3 linked regions of the Homo sapiens genome follow. The protein of the gene in region 3 interacts with the protein of the main gene of each other region in a pairwise test. Each region holds a gene or a part of one and is shown on either strand. Other genes may lie near its edges.

Region 1 (2,568 bases), about 64 Mb from region 3:
CAGCAGGCACCCTGCCATGGACGTGCCTCCAATGCAGAAGAGAACAGCTCCTGCCAGCTTGTACATGTCCAGAGCACTGTTAAACTGGACAGCATGTGTGTCGACCACCACAAAATCGGCTTCGCCAAATGCTTCGATTTTGGGGGGCACAAGAAAGCCCACTGCCAGAACAGTCAATCCGAGGATCACAAAAACTGTACCTGAGATGAGTCCAACCTACAGGTAGATAATGACAGAAGCAAGATAGAGTGAGGAAGGTGCTTCGGCTCGCCCCTGAGCCCTCAAGGGCAGCACTTGTCTTGTTTCTTGAGAGAAATGAATATTCCCAGTTACCCCAAATTTGCAGGAAACACTTACTTAATTTTCTGTTGAAAAAGGTGAAAGATGATCTTTCTAATTTTAATGCCAACCAAAAACTCCAGCACTCAGCCTTGAGATATATGTATATATCATATATATATATTATATATCTAAAGATATACATATATTGTATATCTAAAGATATATATATAATCTTTATATTATCTAAAGATATATATAATCTTTATATTATCTAAAGATATATTATATATAGCTAAAGATCTATATAATATATATGTCCAAAGATATATATATTATATATTATATGTCTAAAGATATGTATATTATATATATATCTAAAGATATATATAAAATATATAATATATATTATATACCTAAAGATATATATTATATATAATATATATCATATATCTAAAAGTAGATATGTAATATGTAAATATATATATAAATATCTTTTTTTTTTAAATTTGTACAATGCTTTGCAGTTGACAAAACCTTCTTTTGCTTACATTGTCTCATTTGGTCTTGAGGAAAAGAAGAGTAGCCCTGATATCCAGGAGCTGGCCTTACTCTGTCCCCTAGGCCTCGACATTGTTAGAAGCTGGCTAGGAGCTCACAGCAAGGCCATGCTGTTCTGCCAGGCACCATCTCACAGAACATTAACACATGCTCATTCTGTGACCATGATGAAGTGAGACAAAACAGTAGCCCTTCATAACTTTGTCTAAGCACAGACAAAAACAAGGTCCTTGTAAAAACCACAAAATACGACATGACCCCCGCTCCTGGCTAATATGAATGACACCTACTTCTTTCTCATGATGGCTTTAGTCTCACTCTAGTCTGTCCTCTCTATACATAAGATATATTAAGATATCCAATCATAGAATTGTCCCTAACAATCCAGAGTGAACTCTTGCTTCATTAGACCCTCCCCAAAATCACCCAACCAGAGCCCACATCCTATAATATTATACATCCTTTTCACACTCTCATATTGCAATGCCCCACAGTCCCCTATGGTGACATTCTTTCTTACTGTAATGAGTAATACATCCAACTTGTTCAACATATAGGTGTGTTCCTGGTGGTTTTGGCTGGAGGACATGGACAGTCTTTGTAACTACTCACCTCTTTTCAAAGTAAGCAGAGAAGGAACCTTAATGGCCAGTTAAGGTAAAGAAATGTAGCGTCAGAGAGGGTAAGTCATGGACCAAAGATGGACAGCTAGCAAGCTGCAGAGGCAGGGTTAGAACCCACAGAGCTGATCCCCAGGCCAGTGTTCTTTCTCCTCTCACATGTAGCTATTTGGGGTATACTTGTGCAGGTGCTAGGAAGTGTTCAGAATAGCAGATGGAGGTTAAACTGCATTAGCTCAAGTTCTAATGAAATGTAACATACTAAAGATGGAAATGATGTACCATTTGGTGGTCAATGCCCATAGGTTTGAAATAAATGGACGCATGCTTCGATTCTACCACCACCACCTAGCACTTGAATCATAGAAGGAAAGTTACTTAAAAGCTCTTGTCATTAATTTCCCCATCTATAAAATGACAAATGCTCATAATACCTACCTCATAGAGGACTTGTGAGGACTAAATGAGACTATCCATAAAAGCACTTAGCCTTGTATCTGGCAAAGTTATACATTGTATCTGGCAAAATTATAAATTGTAATAAGTAGCTATTCTTCTTATTTGGAAAGACACCCCTTGAAAAATTGTTATGCTACATTGGTAACAGTATTACGATTGCTCAGCACTTGGAATAAGGAATAGCTAACACCATTACTTTTTAAAGTAATTTTTCCTTTCCTTCTGTTCTTAATTGCTTTTAGTTAGAATAACAAGGTTAGGAAAATAACCAGATACATAACATAAATTAATCTTTAATATTTAAATTTTTGAGATAATATACTAATAAAGGAGGCTTGGCTAATAGAAGGAAAACGTATCCACAAATCTATCACCCTAGCAAAAATGGGAAAAGTATAACTGGTATTATTGAACATCTATTATGACCTGCACTAATGCTAGATGTGTTTTTTGTTTAATCTTCACAAGCATCTTATGAGAAGTAGGTATTTTTATTCCAATTTCACCTATAAGAAACTGAGGATTATAAGGTTAAAGAAGCATACTTTAGCCGGGCATGGTGGCTCATGCCTGTAATCTTAGCACTTTGGGAGGCCAAGGTGGGTGGATCATCTGAGGTCAGGAGTTTGAGACTGAGAGGTGAAGCCGG
Region 2 (3,126 bases), on a different chromosome or scaffold from region 3:
CAGTGGTTCACACCTATAATCCCAGCACTTTGGGAGACTGAAGCAGGTGGATCACCTGAGGCCAGGAGTTAGAGACCAGCCTGACCAATATGGTGAAACCCCGACTCTATTAAAAATACAAAAATTAGCTGGGCGTGGTGGCATGTGACTGTAGTCCCAGCTACTCAGGAGGCTGAGACGGGAGAATTGCATGAACCCAGGAGGCGGAGGTTGCAGTGAGCTGAGATTATGCAAGTGCACTCCAGCCTGGGTGACAGAGTGAGACTCTGTCTCAAAAAAAAAAAAATGTAGATATGGTTAAGTTTCCATTCTCATGCCAACTCTAATCAGTTACTAGGGGCTGCCTGGACCACTGTGCTGAGAAGATGCAGAGGTTGTTTCCAAGCTCAGAGGTCAAGAGTATTATGATTCTCAGTTTCTTCCATGGAAAAGGAATGGCCACCCCAGCCATGTGTGCACTGCCATTCCTGACTTGATGACATATGTCCCTTTACCTAATAGTACCCACTGCAGTCTGTGAGTAAGGATATGCTTACTGATTGTGGATAAATTTCACTGAATGTGGCCAGCTTGGAAGACAGAGTTTCACATTGTTTTTGGCTCTCCTGCCAATTTTTTGAAGTAAGTGAGATGTAAAAGCAGCTTTTCTGATGCATTATCCATCCCGACGGACAGCAGGTGTCTAAAAAGCAGAAAGAGTGTGATAGCAGCAACAGTTGGGATGAAAGTGACTACTCAGCAATCTTTTGCTAACAATATTCCCCCAGAGCTAATCTCAGCACCTTCATGGACTTCTATGATCTTTGCAATCTTTCTTTTGCATCCCCTGGAAACACCATACCTGTCCTTACTTAGTAAAAAGACTTTAACATTCAACAACATTACTTCTTAGCAATCTGGGAGGTCTGTCTTAATAGGGCTGATTTTATTACCCCAATTTCTGAACAATTGCAGTCCACCCTGACACTTTACCTAACATCTCTTGGGCCCATCTCCTCCACTCCCTAAAGCACCCCTCACTGCACATCCTCCACTCCTCCAGCACTGGCCCCCTCCGTCCCTCTCCAATTTCCTACAAGCAGAAAATGTTGTGTACTGTTTTGCAGAAACTGAGCTCTCTCCTTTTCCCTCCTCTCCACCTCAAAATTTCTCTTCTCTGTTCTTCTTTTCCTGACTATCCATAAGAAATAAATATCCCTCTTTCTTCAACATCCTACATCCCAATGTGCACTTCTGATCCCAGGCCACCTCTCTCCATTGCTTTGTTCCATCAGTCCTACCTTCATCACTCAAAAATCATTCCCTCTCCACTAGCTCCCTCTCTTCTCTCTACATATGCTCATGTCCCCACCCTGCTACTCCCTTGAGCTACTGTCCTATGGCAACTTAAAGGAATAAAAAGAAATCCCTGCTGGGCACAATGGCTCACTTCTGTAATCCCAGCACTTTGGGAGGCCGAGGCGGGGTGGATCACCTGAAGTCAGGAGTTTAAGACCAGCCTGGTCAACATGGTGAAACCCCACCTCTACTAAAAATACCAAAAAATACCCAGGCACCATGGCGCATGCCTATAATCCCAGTTACTCGGGAGGCTGAGGCAAAAGGATAGCTTGAATCCAGGAGGCAGAGGTTGCAGTGAGCCCAGATCACACCACTGCACTCCAGCCTGGGAGTGCACTTCAGTCTCACAGAGCGAGACTCCGCCTCAAAAAAAAAAAAAAAGAAATCTGTATGGCCAAATGGAAGAGGGTGAGGAGATAAGTGGCACACTGAAAGGTAGGCAGGAGTGATGGAAGCCATGTTAAGGATTTTTATTTTTATATTATGAGGAAGAGAAAGTCAGTGTAGGGTTTTACATAGAGGAATTTTGTTCACTAGCTATATCCCAAGTGCCTGGGCACAGTGCTAGAACATATTATATGTTATGTATTCCATAACTGTTTATGTAATCAATTAACTGGAATGCTGTAGATTGGGTGACACGATCAGATTTTTGTTTGTAAAAGATTACCCTGGCTCCAATATGAAGAATGGACTGCAGGGAGAGGAGTGAGTAGGAAAAACATTTAGAAAGCTGTTGCAGATATCCTTGCAAAAGATGAGGATGGGCAAAAATCCATATGGATATATAGACTTGGTGATGGAAAGTGAAGGGAATTCCTCTCTGAAAGAGTGGAAGATGAGGACATCTGCTGAAAGTGAGGGAGAAGGAGTTACTATGGAGAGCAAGCTGACCATTGCAAAGGTTGCCAGGCAGTGCTGAGAGACTAGAGTCTCAGTGGCACTGAGCAGAATGATTCCACAATTTGTCACACCTTGATGCTGACCATGGGCAGTTGGGTTCATCCAGAGTTCAAATTTTGCCCATCAGGTACACTAGAAGGATAATGGAACAAAGAAGTGAGTGAGCCAGGTGCGGTGGCTCACGACTGTAATCTCAGCACTTTGGGAGGCTGAGGCAGGAGGATCGCTTGAGTCCAGGAGTTCGATACCGGCCAGGGAAACATAGTGAGACCTTGTCTCTATTTAAAAAAATAAGTGAGTAGTTGAAGTGATGGGCTCCAAACCCATGTTAGGTAGGGAGAGAAGTGTGGACAGGAGAAGCTGATGGGAAGAGAGAAAAAGGGGAATCAGTTGATTGGAGGCCTGGACTGATGGGAAGGGAGAAAAAGGGGAGTCAGCAGATTGGAGGCCTTGATGAGATCAAAAAAGTGTGGGGAAAACCTGCAGGAGTGGTGGGCAGCTGTGATCAGAGTGGAAGTCTGAAACCATCCTTTCGCCGGAAGAGCAATTTGGGAGGTAGAGGTCTAACATGCTGCTAAGAGCAGCCCTGGCATGGAACTGATGGTCACAGAGGGTAAGGTTAAGGAAATGAGGGCAAGGGGTGTCTGCACATAATCTTGCTGTCTTATGCCTGGGGAGATCACCCAGATGACCCCCAAGCTAGACAGAGCCTAAACCTGATCATAGCCCAAAAACACCCCAGTCCCCTTAGGCGTGGCACCTTGCCTAGACCCTCAGCCTGTTTTGATACAGCCTTGCCTCTTTTATGTGTCCCTTTCCCCATCTCCACTTACTGGCTGGGGTCCTGCTTTCAAAATGAATGGACACCCCATCCTAGTTCCC
Region 3 (4,386 bases):
TTTGAGACCCATCTGGCTCCCTTTGGAGATGATTATTTGTTAGATTATTAATGTTTCCTTGAGTCAAATTACATATTTTAGAGTTTATGGGACTTCCTCTGCTAAAAAAGGATACTATCTTCAGGAAGCAATGGATCCTAAAATTGACTTTGAAACACTCAACAATTTGCCAGCAACAATACTATATATCATCTTTTTAAAGTTTGTGTTTGACGGCATAATTTTTGACTTATTTCTCTCAGGATTCAAAAAAGAAAAATTTTGACTCATTTAGCCATGAAACAAAGGCCTTTACTTCTCAAGATCAAATCTAAGTTTTCCATGTTAACGTCCCTCATAATCTTGTCAAGCGCTATATTTTAAGGTATTTTAATTGACATAAATGTTCCCGAGACTTCTCACCAATACCAATTTGAACTTTAACACTGAAGGTGTTTAGCAGTCCTTGTATTTTCAAAATTAGAAGCCTTTGCAGGAGAAAATATTCAAATACAAAATTTCAACTTCTGCTTCAAACAACCTATTTTGTTACAAATAAGTGTTTCTGAAGAACCTCTTAATACTTTTCTGTTACCCCCCTTATCTGTTAGTCTGCTGAGACTAGATATTCAAATATTCCAAAAGCCAGAGTGTATGCAAGTTCACTTTCATCTCACTTGTCATAGGAATTTAAACATTAAGCCTCAAAGTATGGCACCCTATATGTCTTTTCAAAAACAACAACAAACAACCACATTGTGACTACTAGATGAGGTAAAATTTGTAATAACAGAATCAAAAAAGTCAACCCTAACTTTTCAGCGCTTGAACTCCCAATCACCCCCACTAAAGGCTTCTTCGTTAACCTTGAATCATAAGAATCACTGATCATCGAGTAAGTAAGTGTTCGGGAGATATGACTGTGAGATCCAGCTTTGTAAATAATTTCTGGATTTTTGGGGCGAGTCATTTCATCTCTCTGATTCTTAATCTCTTCACTTAAAAATGAGGGACTTGGAGTATCAGATGATTTCTAAATTTCTTCTTACTCAAAGTCTATTATTCTGATCCCAAAGAAGAAATCGAATCCTTCTCAATACATCCCAAATTGGATATTCTGGATAAGAAATTTTGAAACCAAGTCACACGAAGAGTATGTGAGGGATAAGAAGTCTAGTTTGGGGAAGGGTAAACATTATGTACGAAAAAGAAATGTCTTAAAAGAAAGCAGGCAGGGTGAGCGAGGAGGCTGAAGAGTCGCTCCATAAACTGAGGCAGAAGGAGCAGCCGACAGCAACGCCTACCGCACCCGGAAGGCTCAAGGAGGCGCCCTGGGCAGGGAACTTCCGGTTGCGGGGAAGGGCGGCGTCCTCTCCTAGGGACTTGTCGCACGCGGCTTCTCGTCGCGTTCCGTCTTGCACGCCTCGCAGCCTAGCTCCGCGCGAGTTCCAGGCGCTCAGCACCGGAGCAGCGCCCCGGCAACCATTGAGGCGTCACGGTTCGTCACGGGATTCGGAGCCGGGCGGCTACGGGCGGGGTGTCGCAGCTCTCTTCGACGTACCTGTCCTCAGGAGCCGCGGCGGCGACTGCGCCTCGGACGGCCGTCGGGGCCGAGAACCATGAGCCCCAGGGGCACGGGCTGCTCCGCCGGGCTGCTGATGACTGTCGGCTGGCTGCTTCTGGCGGGCCTCCAGTCCGCGCGCGGGACCAACGTCACCGCTGCCGTCCAGGATGCCGGCCTGGCCCACGAAGGCGAGGGCGAGGAGGAGACCGAAAACAACGACAGCGAGACCGCGGAGAACTACGCTCCGCCTGAAACCGAGGATGGTGAGGGCGGGAGCTCCCTTGCGGGGCACGCGGAGGCCCCTGTTGACGGAGCAAAGGCCTGCTCTTTGCCTGAGAACCATAATTATGTGTGTTAACGTCAGGAGAGCTCTCTCTCATACTTCAGCCCCGAGTTTGTCCCTTTCTTGCATCCTGTGGCCTTGAAGAAGAATGTGCTCATTCTCCCAGGCCACAGCAAGATACACAGATAAGCACGTATATAGAAATTGCTATAGAAACACTTCTAAATATTGCTTTGGACAAGGAAAAAGATTTTTTTTCAGGGTGGGAGGTAGCCTTCCAACAAGAGGAATCATTTTGACTCCTCTTGCAGTCACTTTCCCTTCTCATAGTAGATTTTTTTTTTCAAGTTCCAAGTTGCTTGATTTCCACATTTGCACTTGGGGTTGCAATGGAATTCAGAATCCCCCTTTACGACGATACACCCAGATAGACCAGTATGCCGACAAAACTGCCCAGAAGCCCCATGGCAGCTTCCTGCAGCTCCTAGCCTTGAGCACCTCTGCATTGTGGTGTTTGATTGGTATGTGCGGCCTCGGACAAAGGAATGGAGCAGTAGAAAACACCTGTCAAGGGATCCAGCTAGTGGCTTTGTTAGATGCTACATATTAACCAAGGAACAATGAGCCCCCCGCTTGGTACATACATTTGCTTTTTTTTCTGCTGGCTCATTAAGCAATAAAACTTGACAGGCTGTTGTACATGTCATATTGATTAGTAACTCACATTCTAGCAGGTAGAAGGTCAGCAGCAGGTTTGCTGCCTTCTCAAGAAAGATTATTCCTTTCCCTTCTAAATGACCCAGCTGCAATTCTTTTAATATTGTTTGCATTCTCATATCTCTTCAGTCTATACATATCGAGTGACTGCTGTGTCTACCAGCCTTTCTTTCATTTCCTGATAGTGATCCTCAGCACCAACAGAAAGAAATGAACTGTCTGAGGTTAACAGTGGGATCGAGGTTTGCACGGCCTTGTAACATTATACTACAGAGAGCTTAAAAAGATCCTTGACTTCGGAAATGTGAAAAAGAAAGATGACTAGGAAAGAAGAGAACACGTCCTAAAGCATAGTAGCTATTGCTTCATTCTCTTCTTTAAAGTAATTGAATTAACAATTTTAGTATTAAACTGGCCAAGAAATACTTCTAGCTATAAAATGCTAAATATTATTTAGGCTAAACTCAGGCAATAAAGTTATAATGTCTTACCTTCAAATTAAAATGTAGGTTAGTTACTTATTCTCTGAGTCACAGTTTCCTCATCTACGGACTTCAAGGAATCCATGTACTTTGTGGGATTTTAATACATACTATTTCATGCATAAGTGCTTTTTCTTGGGGAGCGAGAGAATCCAAAACTTTAAACAATCTGAGGTGTTATAGGTCTGAAAATTTCCAGAACCATTATTGAAATTTGCACTGTCCCCTTAACCCTCAGTGGATCAGTAGAAACAGTTATCCCCATTTACTATCCAGTGGACCTTTAATTTTTTTTTAGTCATTTAAAAATAATTTACAAATAAGAATAAAGGGATAGTGAAAACAACTGTGTTAGAAATTTCAAGAAGAATTTAAACATGGAAAAATTCAAATTTTTATTCCATATATCCTAGTTTTGAAGGTGTATGTACTCTAACTGGGCAAAGTACTTTGAATGCAACTAAGTGCTCAACTGTTAAGCATGAACCTGGAATGCATTCATCATGTTAATACTGATTCCAGATTTTGAGTGCATCGTTAATAAATTCTAGCTTATCATTAATCTTGGTTCTTTTTGCACTTGTATTGTCAAAAAAACCAACACTTTTGAAAACTACAAAGGCATATATTTTGTTGAAGAGAAAGCCATCTTCTTTTCTTCATAATTGGAAAATATTTTCATCTTTAGATTTATAAACACCAATTAGAATGATTGGTCCAATGAATTTTACTCATTTCTACATAATCTTTTCTTTCAGTCACCTTTATATACATATCTTTCATCACAATATGTTCATTTACAAACCTTGGCAAATAAATGTTGGTGCATAAACGTTATAAAAAGGGAAAGAATACCGTCCTCATCCTTTTAGCGAAACAGTATGGCACAAGTTATTGTCACAGTATATTTCAGGATTAAATCTTTCCTGTTGTCAGGCTAACTACATGATAATACCATATATTCTTTTCATCCCCAGAAATATAATGTTTACTCATCAATTCTTAAGTTAGAGAAAATTCATCTAGTATATTCATCCAAGATAATCATCATCTCTCATTGAGATTTTGCTTATACAATCAATTTCATCATCATCATTAGCATCCAAAGTGCTGTTATCTGTCTCTTTTCATCTTCTGATTCGTTCAATAATTGTGAAATGTTTTTCTCTGTCAGTTTTCTTCTCTTTGCCATTATGGGCAAAAAATGAAAAATTGTGAAATCTCAACTGTGTTCAATAAAAGCCAAAAATAGACTACAAGGAGGATACCTCTAGACTTCTTTTGTATCTTCTTGAAAGATGATGCAATATCTTGGGCAAAGCAATATGAAAACATGGGATGTTGTAAAATAGCTTGTGTTA

Evidence for each region.
Region 1: the proteins of SPACA1 (region 3) and NRSN1 interact in binary tests that used the Homo sapiens proteins (3 or more experiments, as listed by UniProt).
Region 2: the proteins of SPACA1 (region 3) and CD72 interact in binary tests that used the Homo sapiens proteins (3 or more experiments, as listed by UniProt).

The regions. Positions count from the first base shown.
Region 1 is NC_000006.12:24,143,196-24,145,763, reverse strand, and holds part of NRSN1 (neurensin-1), read right to left. Parts: intron 217-2,568; coding exon 1-216. UniProt on the Homo sapiens protein: May play an important role in neural organelle transport, and in transduction of nerve signals or in nerve growth. May play a role in neurite extension. May play a role in memory consolidation.
Region 2 is NC_000009.12:35,612,312-35,615,437, forward strand, and holds part of CD72 (B-cell differentiation antigen CD72), read right to left. Parts: intron 683-3,126; coding exon 537-682; intron 1-536. UniProt on the Homo sapiens protein: Co-receptor of B cell receptor (BCR) that plays both positive and negative roles on B-cell functions. Recognizes the Sm/ribonucleoprotein (RNP) self-antigen ligand, and coligation of CD72 and BCR inhibits BCR signaling.
Region 3 is NC_000006.12:88,046,308-88,050,693, forward strand, and holds the start of SPACA1 (sperm acrosome membrane-associated protein 1 precursor), read left to right. Parts: upstream 1-1,533; 5' UTR 1,534-1,598; coding exon 1,599-1,806; intron 1,807-4,386. UniProt on the Homo sapiens protein: Plays a role in acrosome formation and establishment of normal sperm morphology during spermatogenesis. Important for male fertility.